Regions from separate parts of the Homo sapiens genome. Here region 1 is linked to region 2. A link means that fine-mapping ties the variant in region 2 to the expression of a gene that starts in the linked region. Tissue or cell type: whole blood. Region 2 holds a variant in brackets; the other region holds the start of a gene. All regions are shown on one strand. Distances are from middle to middle.

What was found.
Region 1: AEBP2 starts here. The variant in region 2 is fine-mapped to the expression of AEBP2 in whole blood (INTERVAL, PIP 0.99).

Annotation. Positions count from the first base shown.
Region 1 is chr12:19,435,181-19,445,411 of GRCh38, reverse strand. AEBP2 (AE binding protein 2) reads right to left here and starts at 5,920. Exons shown (of 8, transcript NM_153207.5): 1 at 5,042-5,920. The coding sequence starts at 5,712. RefSeq lists enhancers at 4,663-4,752, 4,783-4,832 and silencers at 5,483-5,582, 5,593-5,742, 5,803-6,052.
Region 2 is chr12:19,404,386-19,414,616 of GRCh38, reverse strand. It overlaps a transcript of AEBP2 not described here and the pseudogene PDCD5P1. Among named protein-coding and RNA genes, the nearest start is that of AEBP2, 30 kb to the left of the region's middle. RefSeq lists enhancers at 3,156-4,048, 6,085-6,585. The variant T/A (reference allele first, on the strand shown) is at 4,381.

The DNA.
Region 1 (10,231 bases), 31 kb before region 2:
TGCAACCCTCTCTACTAAAAATACAAAAAAAAAAAAAAAAAGAAAACGAGCAGGGCACGGTGGCATGCGCCTGTAATCCCAGATACTCAGGAGGCTGAGGCAGGAGAATTGCTTGAACCCGGGAGGCAGAGGCTGCCGTGAGCCAAGATCGCACCACTGCACTCCAGCCTGGGTGACAGAGTGAGACCCTATATCAAAAAAAATAAAGCATCTGTCACATAACATGGATTCTATATACATCTGTAGAATATACCCATCACACAGTAAACACTTAATGAACGTGTACCAAATACTCTACAATTCACATTGCAATCTTACAGGATAGGAACCATTATTGTCCCCCTTTCATAGACAAGAGACCTCAAGTAGTAAGACGTTAAATAAATACTACTGTTGGGCCAGGTGCCTGTGGTCCCAGCTACTCAGGAGGCAGAGGCTGCAGTGAGCTGAGATCGCGCCACTGCACTCCAGCCTGCGTGACAGAGCAAGACTCTGTCTCAAAATAAATACATAAATGCATACATACATACTACTGTTGGTATTCTCAATTTAATGCTAGTAATTAATGGAGTATTCACCACACCCAAGATATTATGTTAGGTACTTACAAAGATACTAAAAAAGCAAAAATGTCCCTGCCCTCCAAAATACCATTCTACAACAGAAAAGATGCACGCATTCAAGCAACGTGGATGGATTCCTCCAAACAGTTCACAGCGCTCTTTAACAGAAATTATTTCACTTGAACCACAAAACAACACTTCAGAGTAATACCTGTTTTGTAGTTGAGGAACTAAAGTTCAAAGATATACTACTCAAAAATTGAAATATAGGCAGTAATATTAAGATTTGCGCCAGGTCTGGTGGTTCATGCTCAGGCTAGTCTCCTGACCTCATGTGATCTGCCCTCCTCGGCCTCCCAAAGTGCTGGAATCACAGGTGTGGGCCACATGCCTGGCCAAGAGTACTTTCATATATTAACTGATTCAATAGCTAGTACTAATTTGTTAACTAACTCCACGGGCATTTTAAATATTAAAATTCCATTTAAAAGCTAATTTACTACTTGAACTTGAGACTGTCTTCTATTTTCTCGGCATTAACTTTTTTAGCATAAATACACGTTCAGTAACAAGTGCTGACATTTGATCACTTTTTGGATGACTCATTCATTCAACCATATTTTAAACTATTTTTACATGATACTGTGTTGGAAGAATGAAAATAAAATTATGTTTAAAATTTTTTAAATTTTTTTTAAAGTTACCATAGCCTCTGAAATTAACCTAAGAGCATAACTTTTTTAAAAAGTACTTCAGCTTCACTGAAGAGAAAAAAAGTTCAGAGTAAAGAAAAGCTAGTTTTTAGCGGTTTCACATAGCTAAATACTTCTCCCTACTATCTTTATAACCAAAATACTTCTCCCTACTATCTTTATAACCAAAGTAAAAATAAAATTACATATAAATTTCAAGAATTTCTAAATTTACTAAAATAAACACGCTATAAACTTACACTGGTTTTGAAAAACTTTCTTCTGGGGGGAAAAAAATCAACTTTTTGTACCAAGTGGTATTTAATCATTTCATAAATTAGTCACTTTTTACCACAAAACCTTCCAATACCATAAATGACATCTCAGGTCATAACCTCTAATATCTATGTCTTTATATTTAATTATCTTTTTTTGAGATGGAGTCTTGCTCTGTCGCCCACGCTGGAGTGCAGTGGTGCAATCTCAGCTCACTGTAACCTCCGCCTCCCAGATTCAAGCCATTCTCCTGCCCCAGCCTCCTGAGTAGCTGGGATTACATGCCTGCACCACCATGCCTGGCTCATTTTTTTGTATTTTTAGTAGAGATGGGGTTTCACCATGTTGTCCAGGCTGGTCTTGGAATTCCTTGACCTCAAATGATCCACCCGACTCGGCCTCCCAAAGTGCTGGGATTACAGGGGTGAGCCACCATGCCCGGCCTAATTATCTTTTTAAAAGTAGCACTTAAGATATTTAACATGGCCTGCGGTGGCGGCTCACTCCTGTAATCCCAGCACTTTGGAAGACCCAGGTGGGAGGATCATTTGAGGTCAAGGAATTTCAAGACCAGCCTGGACAACATGGTGAAATCGCATCTCTACTAAAAACAAAAATTAGCCAGGGGTGGTGGCACTCACCTGTAATCCCAGTTACTCAGGAGGCTGAGGAAGGAGAATCGCTTGAACCCACAAGGCAGAGGTTGCAGTGAGCCGAGATCGTACCACTGCACTCCAGCCTGGGCGATAGAGTGAGACTCGTCTCAAAAAAAAAAAAGAAAAAGATATTTAACAAAGATGTTCAACAAATTCTAGAGCATATCAGATAAACTAAAAAGCACAACGTAACCAAAACGATGGGAAAGGTAAATGGGCATTATAATAGAATCTTTGTAATAGGAATGCCTAAAAATGTTATAGAGCACTTTAAAACTAAGATTATCCTTCCACTGGTTACAAAAATGAAGTTTTCTTACCATGAAATCAACCTATAAAATCCACAGATTGATGTAATCTACAGTAATTTATAAGAATTAGGGATCCTTTCCAAACTCAAAATAACTGGGAGAAAAATCTCAAAGGCAACAAGAAGATGTTTCAGAATTAAGATTATTAAGACCCCAAGCCAGTTTCACTAGTAAGCCTTCTTCATACAAGTGACAAATCTATTACCCTGAAATGGTGACATTAAAAACAGTATTCTGTAGTCTCTAAAATTAAGCATTAAGAAAACCAAGTTTGCTTGGTTATCAAGTTTTAACTGTAGTTGGATTTGTGACACCCGTATTTTACTTCTTATTCTGAAATAAGATGTAAAAATTATATACTCAAGTAAATATCTCATTAATGTCAAATAAAAGCCACAACTCCACTTCCTAAATGTACTTAACCAATAATTCGTCTCCTGAAGTGATGTAGTAAATGGACACTAACTAAAAACAAAACTCTGACACATATCACTTGGTTTTTTTTTGAGACGGAGTCTCGCTCTGTCGCCCAGGCTGGAGTGCAGTGGCACCATCTCAGCTCACTGCAACCTCTGCCTCCCGGGTTCAAGCGATTCTCCTGCCTCAGCCTCCCGAGTAGCTGGGAACACAGGCGCGCGCCACCACTCTCGGGTAATTTTTGTATTTTTAATGTAGATAAGGTTTCACTATGTTGGCCAGGCTGATCTCAAACTCCCAACTCAGGTGATCCGCCCACCTCGGCCTCCCAAAGTCCTGGGGTTAACAGGCCTGAGCCACCGCGCCCGGCCTCAACTTATTTAAGGCGAATTATTTTAACTCTTCAGTGGAAATAATAGGGGACTTGAGAACCTTTGCTCATATCCAGCCCACCATTTCCATGCTGTATTTACTGTCCTGAGTAAGATACTCAACTTGCTTCTTCATCTGTTAAACAGAAGTCAAAATAATACCTATCTTGCACCATAGTTGTGGGAATGAAATGGAAGACATCTAATTTGTACAGTGGTAGGCAAGCATAATACGTGTATACTGAGTAAATGAAAAACGCTGATTTTATAAACTAATGTCAACTTTCAGATATGTAATGGTATCAGAGGAGCATAAAATGGTAAAAATAGCACATGCTTCATTGTGCAGTTTACATCAATTTTTAATTTTCTTGAAGACATTCTCCTTCCTACCCATGCCTACACAGTTCAACACAATTTTTCTAAGGTTTATACAGTCTACTTTACCCGAAGATATTTTCTTAACTAGACGTTAATGTCAAACAGAATCTAATGCCAGATTTTCAAAATATCCAGGACTCTGTATTACTTGTAGCATTAAATACTAAGGTGTTCGTTTTTAATCAATTAATCAGAATTCCTAGAACTTTAGAATATTAAACTCTTAAATGAAAATCACTATCGACCACTAAAATTTCCATTGCTATACTTTTCTGGAGAGCATGTTTAAAAAAAATGTGATTGTCAAAACATAGATGGTCAAAATAAACGCTAATACACTTTAGAAGTGGCATAATATGCATGTGATTCTCGTTTTTTTAAAAGTACATTAAAAACCAACTAACCCAAACAGATCAAAAGTAATGATAAGACAATTGAAACATACACTATCACACTTTTTAAATGTTCTGAAAAAATGCGCATTTTTGTCACTCTCCAGTTACTTCTAACAAGCTTTAGTAAGAAAAATAATACTCATTCCTTCCGAGACCTCTCCAATGCATGACTTTAAATATTATCATTTAAAATCATGACTCTCATGTTGAAACATTACTATAAAGCCGCAAACTACGTTGTACCTTCAAGACTGTATTTTGTTACGATTCCAACTCTCTGATTCCGCAAAGTTATCTTAAAAGGCCATCAATTCACTATTCTTTTCCACAACCATTTATACGTGTTTAAAACTTTTTCCCAGATATGCTCCCAAAACAAATAGAAAAGATTGTTAAAATCACGTTGGAGACCACATGACTGACTACAAATGAGGGATTTGGGAGGCAATGATTTAATATAAAAGAACAGTCCTTTTTTTGTTTAAGTAGAGAAAAGTGATAGCTGGGGTCTCTCCCATGGACAAGGAAGTTCTGTTAAATCCAGGCGAGACCAGCCATATTGGAAACACTTGTCAATTGTAGTTCTGACAAGTGTTCCCGAACACGGTTGGAAGAAGCTAACCTTGAGTACCGACGTGTGTACATCAAGGCCCTCTTCTGCTCCGCCAGAGGATCTGGGCCCGTTTGGGGACTGTTTCCGAGTTAGAGCCGTCCTGAGGTCCGTGAGGAGCGAAGCGCCGAGGGGAAAGAGGGCGGGGAAAGGAGAGTTGGGGGGGAACGGTTTGAGAGTTGGAAGCCGCGATGCGCTGCGAGAGGGGCGCGGCGGCGACGGCGAGAGATTTCCGAGTTGAGAGTCTGGGGGAGGGGCCGAGGATTCGGGGAGCAGGGGGATCGCGGCAAAACGTCGCCTTGGTCCCCCTCTGAGGGGCCCGGGAGTTCAAGAGGAGGAAGGGAAGGGGAAACGCTTCAGAGCACTGACCTGTCCTCCGAGTCCATGCGGCTCAGGGGTTCCCCATCCGACGACATCTCCAAGCTGCCCCGCCGGCCCCCGGAGGTCGCGCTGCTTCCGCCTCCCCCAGTCCCGTAGCCCTCGTCGCCGCCGCTGGAGACTACGCTGCTGCTACTGCTGCCGCCCCCGCCGCCGCCCTGGCTGCCCCGCGGTCCCTTGGGCTCCTCCAGGCCCTCCTTGCCGTCCCCATCCCCGCTGCTGCTGCTGGCGGCGCCGGGGCTCAACGAGCGGGTCTCGTCGCTGCTGCTCCCGCCGCTGCTGCCCACCAGGCTCTCGGCGCTACTCTCCTCCTCACCCCCGCCGCTGCTGCTGCTCTCATCTTCCTCCTCCTCGTCGTCCTCCTCCTCGTCTTCGTCCTCCCCGGCCTGGCTGGCGCTCTCGGGGCTCGGCTCCGACATCGTCTCTGCCTCGCCGCCCCCCACTCCTCCGCCGCCGCCTCCGCCGCCCCCACCGCTGCCGCCGTTCAGCAGCAGCGCCGCCACCGCCTCGGCCTCCGCCTCCTCTTCCTCCTCCTCCTCTTCCTCCTCCTCCTCGGGGGGCTCAGCCCGGCCCCGCGCCGCCGAACCCGGGCTGCCGGGGGGCAGAGGGCTCAGGCGGGAGAGCTCCTCCAGGTCGGCCATGTCGGTGATAGCGGCGGCCATGGCGGCGCCTGCTCCTCCTCCTCCTCCTCCTCCCCACCGCCGCCTCCCTCTCTCGACTCTCTCTCCCTCGCCCCCCTCCCAAACGCCCAAAACTCCGCCGACGCCGCTGCAGAGCAGGAGGAGGGCCCGCGAGCTGCGTCAGCCTGCACACGCGCTACGGAGCCCGCGCGGGGACAGGCGCGCGACTACGCGCACTCACACGGAGACTGCTGCGCGCCTGCGCGGCGGCACGAGGCAGCACCTCCCCCGGCTGCGGGTTCTGCGCCCCCGCCCCCGCCCGGCGCCCGCCCCGCTGCCCAGTGCCCGCCCCCGCCCCCGCCCCGGCGCCTGCAAGTGCTCAGCGTTTCCTCGGGGCCTTCCCACGCCCTGCCGGGCTTCGAAGCCCAGGGACACGCGGACTGAAAACTCCAACGCTGGCCGGGGATTTTAGCAGCCTTCCGAGTTCTCACGATAAACTCATTCATTCCGGGGGTGTTTGAGGAGTGTCCCCTCTGTACAGGAGCTGAGCCAGGAATAGAACGAGCCTACAGTCTACGAAGAGAGCGGTTTAAAATGGGCAAAAATTAAAACACTACGGTGTAAGGTACTAAATTTTTATGCGCAACACAGGGCGACAGGTTTTAATACACCCTATGTTTGAATACCCCTGGAGATGTTGACATCCTGAACCCAGAGCAAACATCTTGGTTCAGGGTCCTCAAACTTTTTACTTCATGAGCCTTCTAAAACAATTTCGTAAAGCTGTGTATGTTCTTATACAGTTTAGAATGACAGCTACATTTTTCCGGCTTATAAATATTTCATCTGTCGCATTGTTTAAATACTGTATAGCCAATGGATTCTAAATACCATAGGGATTTAACACCCACTAATATCCATTTTTTTAAAATACAGTTTGGAAAATACAATTTCCAAATATTGTTTTCTGGAACTCATATTGACGTTGCATATCTCCTCTAGAATTTTATCCTAGTAATATATTTTATATTTGAACTATTTTGATCGTCTTACTTGTAATAAAAATGTGAACATAAATTGAAGTATCTGGGTTGTTTTTTATATTTTCTGTGATCATAAAGCTCTTATTTCAACCGATCAAAACAAATCTATTTCAAATGTTTGTAAGTACTAAACACAAAAGCAAAATTTTATTGGCAATGCATCTTGCAGAAATGAACTTGGGTGGACTTTTTTCTAATATACATTATGACCTTCAGTGGATGGATTTTTTTGAGAAATAGTTCAGCATCAGTTCTATTCCAAGTTTTCAATTCCATGGATATAAGTGTTGAGAAAACTTGTTCGCATAAAAAAAGCAGATGAGAATGAATGGAGTTTTGTTATAGTAATGCCACACAATTCTTTGAATGCCTTTCGCATTATATGCCCAAAAATCGCATAAAGATCTAACAAAGAAAAAATACTTTTAATGATCTGTCAGCTGACAACTCTGATTAGGTTCTCTTTCAACTTGTTGAAAGCAAGCAACTGAAAACCACCTGACTTGTGAAAGGATGTGTTACCCCATTCTTATTCACCAGTCAATTGTGCCTTTCTTTGGTGTCCTGGAGGTTTTTGCATAACCGGGTATTGCACCTTACTAAGATTTAGCATGAGGAAGAATTATGCCTTTCTTTTGTAAAGTAGGGAAGAGGTCATTGGAAGAAAGGAGACTGGAAAAGAGCCCACATTACACCCTGACCCAAGGACACATTTTCAGGCCAATTTTAGGGATGCTTCTACTCAAGGAAAATGAGGATAGAACTGACTGCCTGAAAACAGAGCCTCCATGCTCATTTCCCATTTGGGAAAGTCGTCATATACCGTGAGTACCCAGTATTACATCCTCTGCCTTAGGCCTTTGGACAACTGTTATATAAAATGTTGCCTCTAAGGGAATGCAAAAATAATAACATGGGACATCATTTACAGATACCTTCAGAGGCACATACAATGTAAGGTATTAACTTCCAACATTTTAAACCTCAAAGGCAATCTTAGATAAGGAATGTATTAAAGTGAAATACACTGTAAACTGTAAATTAAAAACTATCAGAAGGCCGGCAGGGTGGCTTATACCTGTAATCCCAGCACTTTGGGAGGCCAAAGTAGGAGGCTCACTTGAGCCCAGGAGTTTGAGACCAGCCTGGGTAAAATAGCGAGACCCTGTCTCTACGGCACACCTGTAGTCCCAGCTACTCAGGAGGCTGAAGTGGGAGGTTCACTTGAGCCCTGGAGGTTGAGGCTGCAGTGAGCCATGATCATGCCACTGCACTCCATACCTTTCCTCACCCATCATAAGGGTCATGGCCAACACTTCTACAACAAAAGACAGGTTAACAAGAGAAAAGTGTAACAAATTAATTTAATGGAAGTCTTATGTGACACAGGAGCCTTCAGAAGTAAAGACCCAGAGAAAGCTGTCCATTTGTATGCCTAGATTCAACAGAGTGGACATCCATGTAGAAATGTGATTGTACAAAAAGAGAATGAACTAATAGTAATAGACTGAGTGTGGAAACCCAGCAAGGCCTGTCCAGATTCGTCTTGACCTCTCTGTGTAGCATTCCTTCCACACCCAGGTATAGAGCAGACTTCTCTGGAATGAGAGTCTTCAAATGAGAAGGCAGAGAGTGACCTTTCTTCGTTTCATGGCTTACTTTGTGGGGAAAGGAGTTCTGGTTTATATGACTAGCCTAGGGTGAGTAACAGGGATAGGAGACAGCAGGACAGAGGTTCAGTGAGAGACTTTGCTTCTCAGGCTTTCCAATCTCCTTTAGTTCAAAGTACTCAGCATGGGGGCCAGGTGCAGTGGCTCACTCTTGTAATCCCAGCACTTTGGGAAACTGAAGCAGGGGGATCACTTGAGCCCAGGAGTTCGAGACCAGCCTGAGCAATGGGATGAAACTCCATCGCTACAAAACACTTTTTTTTGTTGTTAACTAGCCAGGTGTGGTGGTGTGCACCTGTAGTCCCAGCTACTTGGGAGGCTGAGGTGGGAGGACAGCTTGAGCCAGGAGATTGAGGCTGCAGTGAACTGTGAGTGATCAAGAGCCATTGCACTCCAGTTTGGGCAATAGAGTAAGACCTTATCCCCCCCCCAAAAAAAAAAGAAAAAAGAAAAGAAAACAAAAGAAAACACAAAGTGTTACCAGAAAGGGGCCCCGATCCCGACCCCAGGAGAGGGTTCTTGGACCTCACACAAGAAAGAATTTGGGGTAAGTCCATACAGTAAAGTGAAAGCAAGTTTATTAAGAAAGTAAAGGAATAAAAGAATGGCTACTCCATAGACAGAGCAGCACTGAGGGCTTCTGGCTGGCCACTTTTATGGTCATCTCCTGATTATACGCTAAACAAGGGGTAGATTATTCATGAGTTTTCCAGGAAAAGGGTGGGCAGTTCCTGGAAATGAGGGTTTCTCCATTTTTTAGACGATAGGGTAACTTCCCGACATTGGCATGGCATTTGTAAACTGTCAAGGCACTGGTGGGAGTTGTCTCTTAGCATGCTAATGTATTATAATTAGCACATAATGAGTAGCTACGATGACCAGAGGTCACTTACATCGCATCTTGGTTTTTGTGTGTTTTGGTCAGCTTCTTTACCACATCCTTTTACCAGCAAGGAGTTTGTGACCTGTATCTTGTGCTGACCTGCTATCTTATCCTAACTTAGAATGCCTAACCTCCTGGGAATGCAGCCCAGTAGGTTTCAGCCTTATTTTACCCATCCCGTATTCACGATGCGAGTCGCTGTGGTTCGAACACCTCTGACAAAAGTACTCAGCATGCCAAAGCACCATACTTTGGGGTATCATTTTCTGAGCCCCAACAAATGTATGTGCCAGACACTGTGTTAAGCCCTGGAGATTATGGTTCATGTTTGGCCGAGTTAATCAAGGAAAGCTTCATGAAAAATGTAGGATTTCGACAAAGTGTATAGTAAGACATACAATAACTATATCTGGTTTCATTAATTTGAGCTGGATTTTGAAGAGCGAACAGAATTCTGTGTTGGGGAACTCAAACTGAGAAGCAATATACGGAAAAGCATCAACATTTATTCATGACAAGGTTAATTAACCATAAGAAATCATGGCAAGAAAGCTAAAAATAGTTAAATATTAGATTGAAGAAGGACATGAATAAAAAGTTGATGTTGGGGACCAGTCACAGTGGCTCATGCCTGTAATCCAGCACTGTGGAGAGCTGAGACAGACAAATCACTTGAGGTTACGAGTTCAAGGCCAGCCTGGCCAACAAGGTGAAACCCTATCTCTACAAAAAATAAAAAAATTAGCCAGGCACAGGAGAATCACTTGAACCCGGGAGGTGGAGGTTGCAGTGAGCCGAAATTGCGCCACTGCACTCCAGCCTGGGTGACGGAGCATGACACCGTCTCAAGAAAAAAAAAAAAAAATTAGCCAGTCATGGTGGCACACAGCTATGGGAGGCTGAGGTGGGAGGATCACCTGAGCCTAGGGAGGTCCAGGCTTTCAGTAAGCCAAGCACCACTGCAC
Region 2 (10,231 bases):
GAGGTGCCTAGAGCACAAAATGGAAAAAGACATCGCCCTCCAGTGCTGAGCCTGCACTTGTCCCATGTTGAGAGTGATGCCTCCTTAGCTTTTGCATCCTGGGTGCCTCTCTCACCTCATCCTAGTGCCAGGCCTATTCCCTGAAAATCTTAGGCACTTCACATGCACATACAATTTCAGTGCATCCTGAAAGCCCACTGATTTTGAGATGCCCTCTTAAAGTAACTTTGGGAATTGGCCAGGTATGCTGGCTGCCTGTCATGCCAGTGTCAGAGGCATGTGAACCAGAACAACTCCATCTTGAATAGGAGCTGGGTAAAATGAGGCTGAAACCTACGGGGCTGTATTCCCAGACAGTTAAGGCATTCTAAATCACAGGATGAGATAGGAGATCAGCACAAGATACGGGTCATAAAGACCTTGTTGGCCGGGCGCAATGGCTCACACCTGTAATCCCAGCACTTTGGGAGGCTGAGGCGGGAGGATCACGAGGTCAGGAGTTCAAGATCAGCCTGGCAAACATGGTGAAACCACATCTCTACTAAAAATACAAAAATTAGCCAGGCACGATGGCAGGCGCCTGTAATCTCAGCTACTCGGGAGGTTAAGGCAGGAGAATCGCTTGGACCTAGGCAGCAGAGGTTGCAGTGAGCTGAGATGGCGGCGCTGCACTCCAGCCTGGGTGACACAGTGAGACTGTCTCAAAAAAAAAAACAAAAAACAAAAACAAACAAAAAAAAAACCTTGATAAAATAGGTTGCAGTAAGGAATCCAGCTAAATCCTACCAAAACCAAGATGGCCACAAGAGTGACCTCTGGTTGTCCTCACTGCTCACTACCAGCAGCACCATGACAGTTTACAAATGCCATGGCAACATCAGGCAGTTACCCAATATGGTCTAAAAAGGGGAGGCATGAATAATCCACCCCTCGTTTAGCATATCATCAATAAATAACCATAAAAATGGACAACCAGCGGCCCGCTGGGCTGCTCTGTCTATGGAATAGCCATTCTTTTATTTCTTTTTTTTTATTTTGCATAACAAGTTTATTTTTTAAAAGGCATATAGACAATAAACAAACTAAATATTTAATCAGATCTTAACTTCTGTCCTAGAATTGTTCTGTTAAGTTCTAGTCTGTGAGCACTTGTAGTTCAATAATCGTCTTCTTCATCAGAGTCCATTACTTTTCTTCTGTTGAATTTCACTGTTGTTGTCTTTTCTGTTTGTTGGCTTACTTTTTAAAGGATTTCTATTAAACCTTGTTCTGACACCTTCTCAGTTGTCCATATCTTGCCATCTGTATAAGGTAATTCTCTACTGCTTTAGTTTTTTCAGGCTTTACAAGTGCTAAGTTACTTAAACCTGGCCCGGCCGACTGATCCAAAACTTGGGTTAAGATACTGTTTCTCATTTCTGCTTCCCTGTGCTTTGCTTCCTGTTGGGCTGCATCGCCAGGATCCTGTCGGCTAAACTTGGGTCAGAACAAATGAATTCCGGAAAAACTGAATTCGGCCCGGCTGCTGCTGGCTCCAAAAGCTGAGACTGTGCTTGGATCCAGGCCCGCCAGGACGAGCCCGCTCCAGGCCAGGGGACCCCACACCCCAACGCCGGGGCAGGTCCTGCATGTGGCAGCCCCTGCCGCGAGCCTCCTGGGCCCCTCGTGACGGGGAAAGCGGCATGGCCACCTCGGAGCCGGCCATGAGGCCGCCAGGGCAGCGCCAGGGACCGGGCCCCCGGGGAGGCACCCAGAGCCTCCCCATTCTTTTATTTCTTTACTGTCTTAATAAACTTGCTTTCACTTTGCACTGCGGACTCTCCCTGAATTCTTTCTTGCACGAAATCCAAGAACGCTCTCTTAGGGTCTTGTTCGGGACCCCTTTCCATAACATATTTCTCTGTCCTGTAACACCAGCACTTTGCGAGGCCGAGGCAGGAGGATTGTTTGAGGCCAGGAGTTTGAGACTAGCCTGGGCAACATAGTGAGATTCTGTCTCCATAAAATTAAAAATAATAATAATAATAATAACCTTCGGAGGCCGGGTGCAGTGGCTCACACCTGTAATCCCAGCACTTTGGAAGACCAAGGTGGGCAGATCAAGAGGTCAAGACATCGAGACCATCCTGGCCAACATGGTGAAACCCCTTCTCTACTAAAAATACAAAAAAATTCGCTAGGTGTGGTGGCGTGTGCCTATAGTCCCAGCTACTCGGGAGGCTGAGGCAGGAGAATCGCTTGAACCCAGGAGGTGGAGGTTGTAGTGAACTAAGATCACACCACTGCACTCCAGCCTGGCGATAGCACAAGACCCTGTCTCAAAAATAAAAGATAAAAAAAATTAAAAAAATAAAAAACTTTGGGAATCAAAATATGCAGTCTTCACATCAGCTCTAGTGTTCATATGTGACTTCAATTTTGAATCTTAAGATACAAGATTCCAGGGCCTCTGAGAGTCCACAGAACACCTCTGTGTGACTTGGAAAAGGCACTACCTCCGGACAGATACAGCCCTGCTGAGAGCAGCTGCAGAATAAGAAGAACTCAGCCTTGCTGTCTCCACCAGTGCCCTTGTAGTACAGAACCTGCGCAGCACTTACGGACAGGAGTCTGGTGATTCATGCCTTTCACGTGGGTGATGTGAATGAGGACCCAGTTTAGAGTCAGACATACCTTTTCAATTCCAAGCCAGCCTTATGCCAGGAAATTCTGAGCTTCACTGTACATGGTCTGAGTCTGTTCTCCAACCTCTAAAATGTGCGCAATAATTTTTAGAGTTATTATGAGGAGTAAACGAGTCAATCTATGTCAAGTGTTTTCTTTCTGTCTTATAGTTGCTGCTCATTAAATGCTAGTTTCCCTGGAAGAGCTTAATAGAAATGTGAATGAATGTGTTTCCTTCGGGCGATGTTCCAGCACTGTAGAGGTCTTAGATGTGCCAGAACCTGAGAGAAGAATAATCATAGTAATAATAACAAGTATGTATTATAAGTCTTTACTTGTGCCAGGCACTGTTCTGAGAACTTTACATGGATTAACTCATTTAATCCTCCCAACTCTAAGAAGCAGGAATTTGTAAAATCCCCTTTTAGAGATGCAAAAAGGCCCTGGCCAAAATGTCCTGGGGCTCCTCTGGCTCAGTAAGAGCTAAGAACCAAAGACAGAAGAGGAAATTCTCTCTGCATTTTCAGTCTGTGTGGCTCTCTGGCAAGGCTGGGTCTCCCCATCAGGGCACGGGATGTGGTAGAGGAGGTTCCCAGGCTGAAACAGTGAGCTACATCCTCCCTCTGGACCAAGCTTCCTTTAATATTGCGAATTAGTAAATCAGCTGGATAGTTGTTCTAACACTCCAGCTAAGAGTGAACAAGGATTATAGATGAGAATAGGCTAATTTGTTTGTTTTACAGAGTTAAATAATTTCAGGAGATCCACTCTCAAATTGTAGTCCAAGCTTCCAAGTGACTTTTGCTAATAGCTTTGCCTTTTCTTTAGTTTATGTCAGTAAAATGGGTGTTGTTCCACATCTGTTAACATCCCTATAAGCTTTCAGTGAATGTTTTTTTTTGCCGTGACCGCCTCACAGCCAGTGAACTTAATCATTGCTGACATCAGCAATTTCTCTGCCATTGATATGGAAGTTAAGTTTAGTTTAAGTAAAATTAGTTTACCCAAAACCAATTACGCATTTTAGCACCTGCAATGCAAGTTAAGCCGTCCCTCCTTCCTCAAACACAGCTATTTACATTTATTAGCACTTCACTGACAGGTCTCTTCAAGCTCAAGCATTAAACGGTCTTACAAATGTTTCCTGCTCCCGAATTCTTAGATACTGAGATCCGCATGGGCTGAAACCATCCTGATTATTTCCAGAAGCCTGGGAAACAGGTCCTAGATAGTCATAATTTAGTATTTTAATTTACTCAACAAATAATTACTGAACACCTACTATGTACCAGGATTTTGTAGGGTCTCTGGTAAAGAATACAAAAATCTTTTGGTTGGGGAAGGGGGTAGATGAAGGTCACGAAACAGGGGAGAAGCAGTTCCTAGAGGCACAAGGAAGCTAGGGAGAGCGCAGGGTATTCGAATTGGCTGTCTCAGCTAGAGAAAACATCTATAAAGGGCCAGACGCAATGCAGGTTCTGTCTCAAATATTTGAATCTCTTCCATCTACACCATTTGGCAGACAGGAAGTCCCTACTCTCTGTGGATTTACTAATGGGAGAGACAAACCTCTGATGTAATGAAGTGGCAGGAGGTGTGTTTACTCCAGCTTCCCTTGAAGGGAAAGAATAGTGGCAGAAAGTTCTTCGGTGAACCCCAGGGTACACATATAAGAGTGGGAGCACGTGCTGGTTTGCAGTTTTTGTTAAATCCAAC[T/A]GGCTCCAGCTCTGTCAGATAAGAGTAAATTAATTCATTTATACTCCACAACCATAGCGGGGGATGAGAAAAAGGAGGTTGAGCAGTGAAGATTAGGGCGCTGGCCCTATCTTAGAGTGAGAGAGGGTCTAATTTCTTGAGAGAGAAGCCCTACATGTTCTGTTTTCTTGCCCTGGTCTGCTCCATTTTTGCACTTTTATAACTACTACACAAAAAAGCTATGGGTTGAAATCAGGTCCCTGGAGCATTTTTAGCTACCAGTCAATCTAGGGAAACTCTAGCTTTTGGAAGGTTAAATCAGACTATGATTCAGAGAGTTTGCATTTTAAGGAGAAGCAATGTAATTATTGCTCAGAAGAAAGTTTTAATGCAGTCCCAAGGTAATTAAGTACAAAGCCTAAATTAGATGCTGTACTTACTAAATTGACTTTCTATAACTTAGAAAAGAAGATTCCTAGGCAAAGCCCACGACATTATAATGAAAAAAGCCTTCCACTAAGCTGGTCTGATTGACTTGGTCAAATGGTATATAAATTAAATCCATCTGAAGAATCTGATCTCCAAATGGGATTTTCATTTCCATAAGACTGCAGTTTAAAAATGTATGTGAAGTAAGAAAGTAAGACTAAAATCATTTCCCCCCACGGCTGGTGAACTTGGCAGTCCACGTGGAAAATGAGCCAGCTCTTCCCTTGCTGAACAAATCCATTCAAAGTGATTTCACAGTTTTCCTTCCTTATCCTGTGGAATGTGGAAGCCATTTTCCAGTGAGTTAAAAAAATATGATTCTGAGGTTTTAACCCTTTGGGACAAGATATTCATTCTCTCTTTTTTTATTTTTCCAAGGGTATGTAGGATAATGCAATAGGGATTTTTTTTTTTTTTTAGCACAAATGCTGAAGGCAGAAAGTTGATTCAACCTTATTTAATTAGGACCCAAAGGGAATAGTTATGCCTAATATAATGCGAAGTTCTGTAATTGAACTAATATGATTTTGCAGCCACCTCTCAGGGCAACACTAACGCAAGTAGATTAAATGATGCAGGAAAAACTTTTTTGTTTTGGTGTTGCAAAATTAAATAAACTAATTAAAAATCACTAGTTGAAGGCTGCAAGCTTTTGTAGTCAAGTTGGGTTCTTTTGGGGGTACCTGACTTCCTTTGCCCAATTTTTCCCCGATTCTATGCCAAACTCTATGCCAGGTAAAAAAGATAGATATGTGTTTGCTTATATTTACATAAAATATATCTTCCGGAAAAGAAACAAAAAAAAATTTTTTTTGCTGTTTTGCTTTATTTATTTTTACTTTATTTATTTATTTATTTATTTATTTGAGACAGAGTCTCACTCTGTCACCCATGCTGGAGTGCAGTAGCGAGATCTCGGGTCACTGCAACCTCTGCCTCCCGGGTTCAAGCGATTCTCCTACCTCAGCCTCCTGAGCAGCTGGAATTACAGGTGTGCGCCACCATGCCCAGCTAATTTTTTGCATTTTTTTAGTAGAGACGGGGTTTCACCACGTTGGTTAGGCTGCTCTTGAACTCCTGACCTCGTGATCCACCTGCCTCGGCCTCCCAAAGTGCTGGGATTTTAGGTGTGAGTCACCGCGCCCGGCCTTGCATTTTTGAAATAGGCGATTCATTCACATTAAATCCAGAAAGTGTATACGAGAAAACGCTTTCTTTTTTTTTTTTTTTCTTGCTCTGTGGCCCAGGCTGGAGCGCAGTGGTGCAATCTCGGCTCACCGCAACTTCCACCTCCTGGGTTCAAGCGATTCTCCTGTCTCAGCCTCCCAAGTAACTATGCACCACCATGCTCAGCTAATTTTTTGTTGTATTTATAGTAGAGACAGAGTTTCACCATGTTGGCCAGGCTGGTCTCGAACTCCTGACCTCAGGTGATCCGTCCACCTCGGCCTCCCATAGTGCTGGGATTACAGGCATGAGCCAGCACACCCGGCCAAGAAAAGTCTTTCTACTTCTGCCTCCCAACTGCCCAGTTTCCCTTTCCAAAACAACTAATATTCTAATTTGGTTTTGTATTTTTGTTATGGTGAGATATTTTATGTATACTTAAGTAGCTACACATACGTATTCTCTAAGTCCCAAACTTAATCCTTACAAAAAGAACAGCATAGCTTAACAGAAACATCTTCCTTACATTTTAAACTTTTTTTTTTTTTTTGAGACAGAGTTTCACTCTTGTTGCCCAGGCTGGAGTGCAATGGCGCAATCTCAGCTCACTATAACCTCCGCCTCCGGGGTTCAAGCAATTCTTCTGCCTCAGACTCCTGAGTAGCTGGGATTACAGGCATGCACCACCTAGCCGGGATAAGTTTTTTGTATTTTCAGTAGAGACGGAGTTTCTCCATGTTGGTCAGGCTGGTCTCGAACTCCCAACCTCAGGTGACCCGCCCGCCTCGGCCTCCCAAAGTACTGGGATTACAGGAGTAAGCCACCACGTCCAGCCATTTTTAACTTTTTTAAGCAATAGGCTCGGCTGGGCTCAGTGGCTCACACCTGTAATCCCAGCACTTTGGGAGGCCAAGACAGAAGGATTGCTTGAGCCCAGGAGTTCAGGACCAGCCTGGGCAACATAGTAAGACCCTGTCTCTAAAAAGAAAAAAGAGATGGAGGCTGGGCGTAGTGGCTCACGCCTGTAATACCAGCACTTTGGGAGGCCAAGGCAGTCAGATCATGAGGTCAGGAGTTCAAGACCTGCCTGGCCAACATGGTGAAACCCCGTCTCTACTAAAAATACAGAAATTAACTGGGCATGGTGGCGTGCGCCTGTAATCCCAGCTACTTGGGAGGCTGAGGCAGGAGAATTGCTTGAGCTGGGACCTGGGAGGTGGAGGTTGCAGTGAGCCAAGATTGCGCCCGGGCTACAGACCCAGACTCCATCTCAAAAGAAAAAAAAAAGAAAAAAGAAAAAAGAGATGGGGTCTTTCTGTGTCACCCGAGCTGAAGTGCAGCGGTACCAATAGCTTACTGCAACCTTGCGTTGAACTTCTGGGCTCAAATAATCTTCCCACCTTAGCCTCCGGAGTAGCTGGGACTACAGGTGTGCACCATGCCAGGCTAATTCTTTTTTGTTGTTAGAGATGGGGTTTCGCTATGTTGTTCATAATGTTCTCAAATTATTGGGCTTGAGTAATCTTCCTGTCTCAGCCTCCTGAGTAGCCGAGATTACAAGTGTGAGACACCATGCCCAATCTTTACATTTTTTTAAACGTAAAAAATTTCTTTGACAGAGGAGCAAAGGTAATACAATAGAGAAAAGATAGTCTTTTCAACAAATGTTGTTGAACAACTGGACATCCACATGCAAAATATGAAACTAGACAGACCTTACATCCTTCACAAAAATTAGTTCAAAATGGATCACAGACCTAAATGTAAAACGCAAAACTATAAAGCTCACAGAAGATAACATAGGAGAAAATCCAGATGATCTTGAATTTGGTGATCACTTTTTAGATAGAACACCAAAGGCAAGATCCGTGAGAGAAATAATTGATAAAATAGACCTCAGTAAAATTTTTTTTTTTTTTTGAGACAGAGTTTCGCTCTTGCTGCCCAGGCTGGAGTGCAATGGCGCAATCTCAGCTCACTGCAACCTCCGCCTCCTGGGTTCAAGCGAATTCTCCTGTCTCAGCCTCCAGAGTAAGCTGGGATTACAGGTGCATGCCACCACGTTCGGCTATTTTCTGTATTTTTAGTAGAGACGGGGTTTCATCATATTGGTCAGGCTGATCTCGAACTCCTGACCTCAGGTAATCCACCCACCTGGGCCTCCCAAAGTGTGCGTCTATTTATCTGAAGATTGTTAGTGCAGTTAAACTATTTTGTATGATAATATAATCATGATGCATGTCATTATACATTTTTGTAAACCCACAGAATGTATGATGCCAAGAGTGAGCCCTAATGTAAACTATGGACTTTGGGTGATAATGATGTATCAATGTAGGCTGGGTGTGGTGGCTCATGCCTATAATCCCAGCACTTTGGGAGCCCTAGGCAGTGGATCACTTGAGGTCAGAAGTTCGAGACTAGCCTGGCCAATATGGTGAAACCCCATCTCTACTAAAAATGCAAAAATTAGCCAGGCGTGGTGGCAGGCTCCTGTAATCCCAGCTACTTGGGAGGCTAAAGCAGGAGAGTCCTTTGACTCGGGAGGCAGAGGTTGCAGTGAGCCAAGATTGCACCACTGCACTCCAGCCTGGAGTGAGACTCCGTCTCAAAAAAGAAAAAAAAAAAAAAAACTGGCCAGGCATGGTGGTGCACATCTGTAGTCCCAGCTACTCCGGAGGCTGACACAGGAGAATCACTTGAACTCGGGAGGTGGAGGTTGCAGTGAGCTGAGATGGCCCACTGTACTCCAGCCTGGGGACACAGACTCCATCTCAAAAAAAAAGATAAAGTATCAATGTAGGTTTATAGGTTCATTGATTTTAATAAATGTATCCTCTGGTGAGGGATGTTCATAATGGGGGTGTGAGACGAAGCAGGAACCCCTGTTAGGGGCCTGCCAGTCCTCCCACCTCTCTACCATCCTGCCACAAGCATGAAAATAGAGGAAAATCTTGAATTTCTTTAAGAACAAATCCAGCCGGGCGCAGTGGATCACGCCTGTAATCCCAGGACTTTGGGAGGGTGAGGTGGGCGGATCACGAGGTCAAGAGATGGAGACCATCCTGACCAACATGGTGAAACCCTGTCTGTACTAAAAATACAAAAATTAGCTGGGTATGGTGGTACATGCCTGTCAGTCCCAGCTACTCAGGAGGCTGAGGCAGGAGAATTGCTTGAAATCGGAGTCAGAGGTTGCAGTGAGCCGAGATCGCGCCACTGCACTCCAGCCTGGCGACAGAGCGAGACTCCGTCTCAAAAAAAAAAATAAGTAAATAAAATAAAAATAACAATTCCAGATACCTAGCTAGTGCTGAGAAGTAAATAAGCAATTTGATAAGCAAGAAGGTAATAGTAGCCTAAAACGATAGCCAACTGGGCGAGGTGGCTCACGCCTGTAACCCCAGCACTTTGGGAGGACGAGTCGGACAGATCACTTGAGTTCCAGAACAGCCTTGGCAACATGGTGAAACCCCATCTCTACTAAAAAGGCAAAAAATTAGCTGGGCGTGGTGGGGCATGCCTGTAGTCCCAGCTACTCAGGAGGCTTGAGGCAGGAGAATCACTTGAACCCTGGAGGCAGAGGTTGCAGTGAGTCCAGATCTCGCCACTGCACTCCAGCCTGGGCAACACAGTGAGACCTTGTCTGAAAAAAAAAAAAAAAAAAAAAAGAGTAGCCAAGGAAGTTGGAATCACGAGATGTTTGGTTCCCTATAGAAACTAAAAATAATATCGTAACATATGGCCCTGCGTTTCATAAACATGGATCCCTAACAAATGGATCCACTGCCACATAGACCTCAGATAAGGGAGAACTGAGAACTCAACTCTCCCGCATTCTTTGTTCTAAATTTCTTCCTGAGGAGCCTGGAGAAAGCCACACCCACGAGCCAGACCCAACGTTCTTTTCTGCGGAACCCAGTCTTTATAAATGCTTCCCTTCCTTAACCAGTTGTAAATCAGAAAATCTTTGAAACCTTGTTTTTCCAATATGGCGGATAGGAGCCGGTGTTAGCGTGCCTCTCCCACTTGGAAAGACAGAATAGTGTGTAGAGATTCACACTGTGAACATTTTTCCGAGAAGCAACACAGGAACTTAACAGAAAACCACAGACCCTTTGAAAGAAGCAGTGGGTAGCACCCTACACTGTGAAGTAGAAAACTGTTGAGTTTTCAGAGCCTGAGAGGAAGCGCGATGGCCGCCATGCCACACACG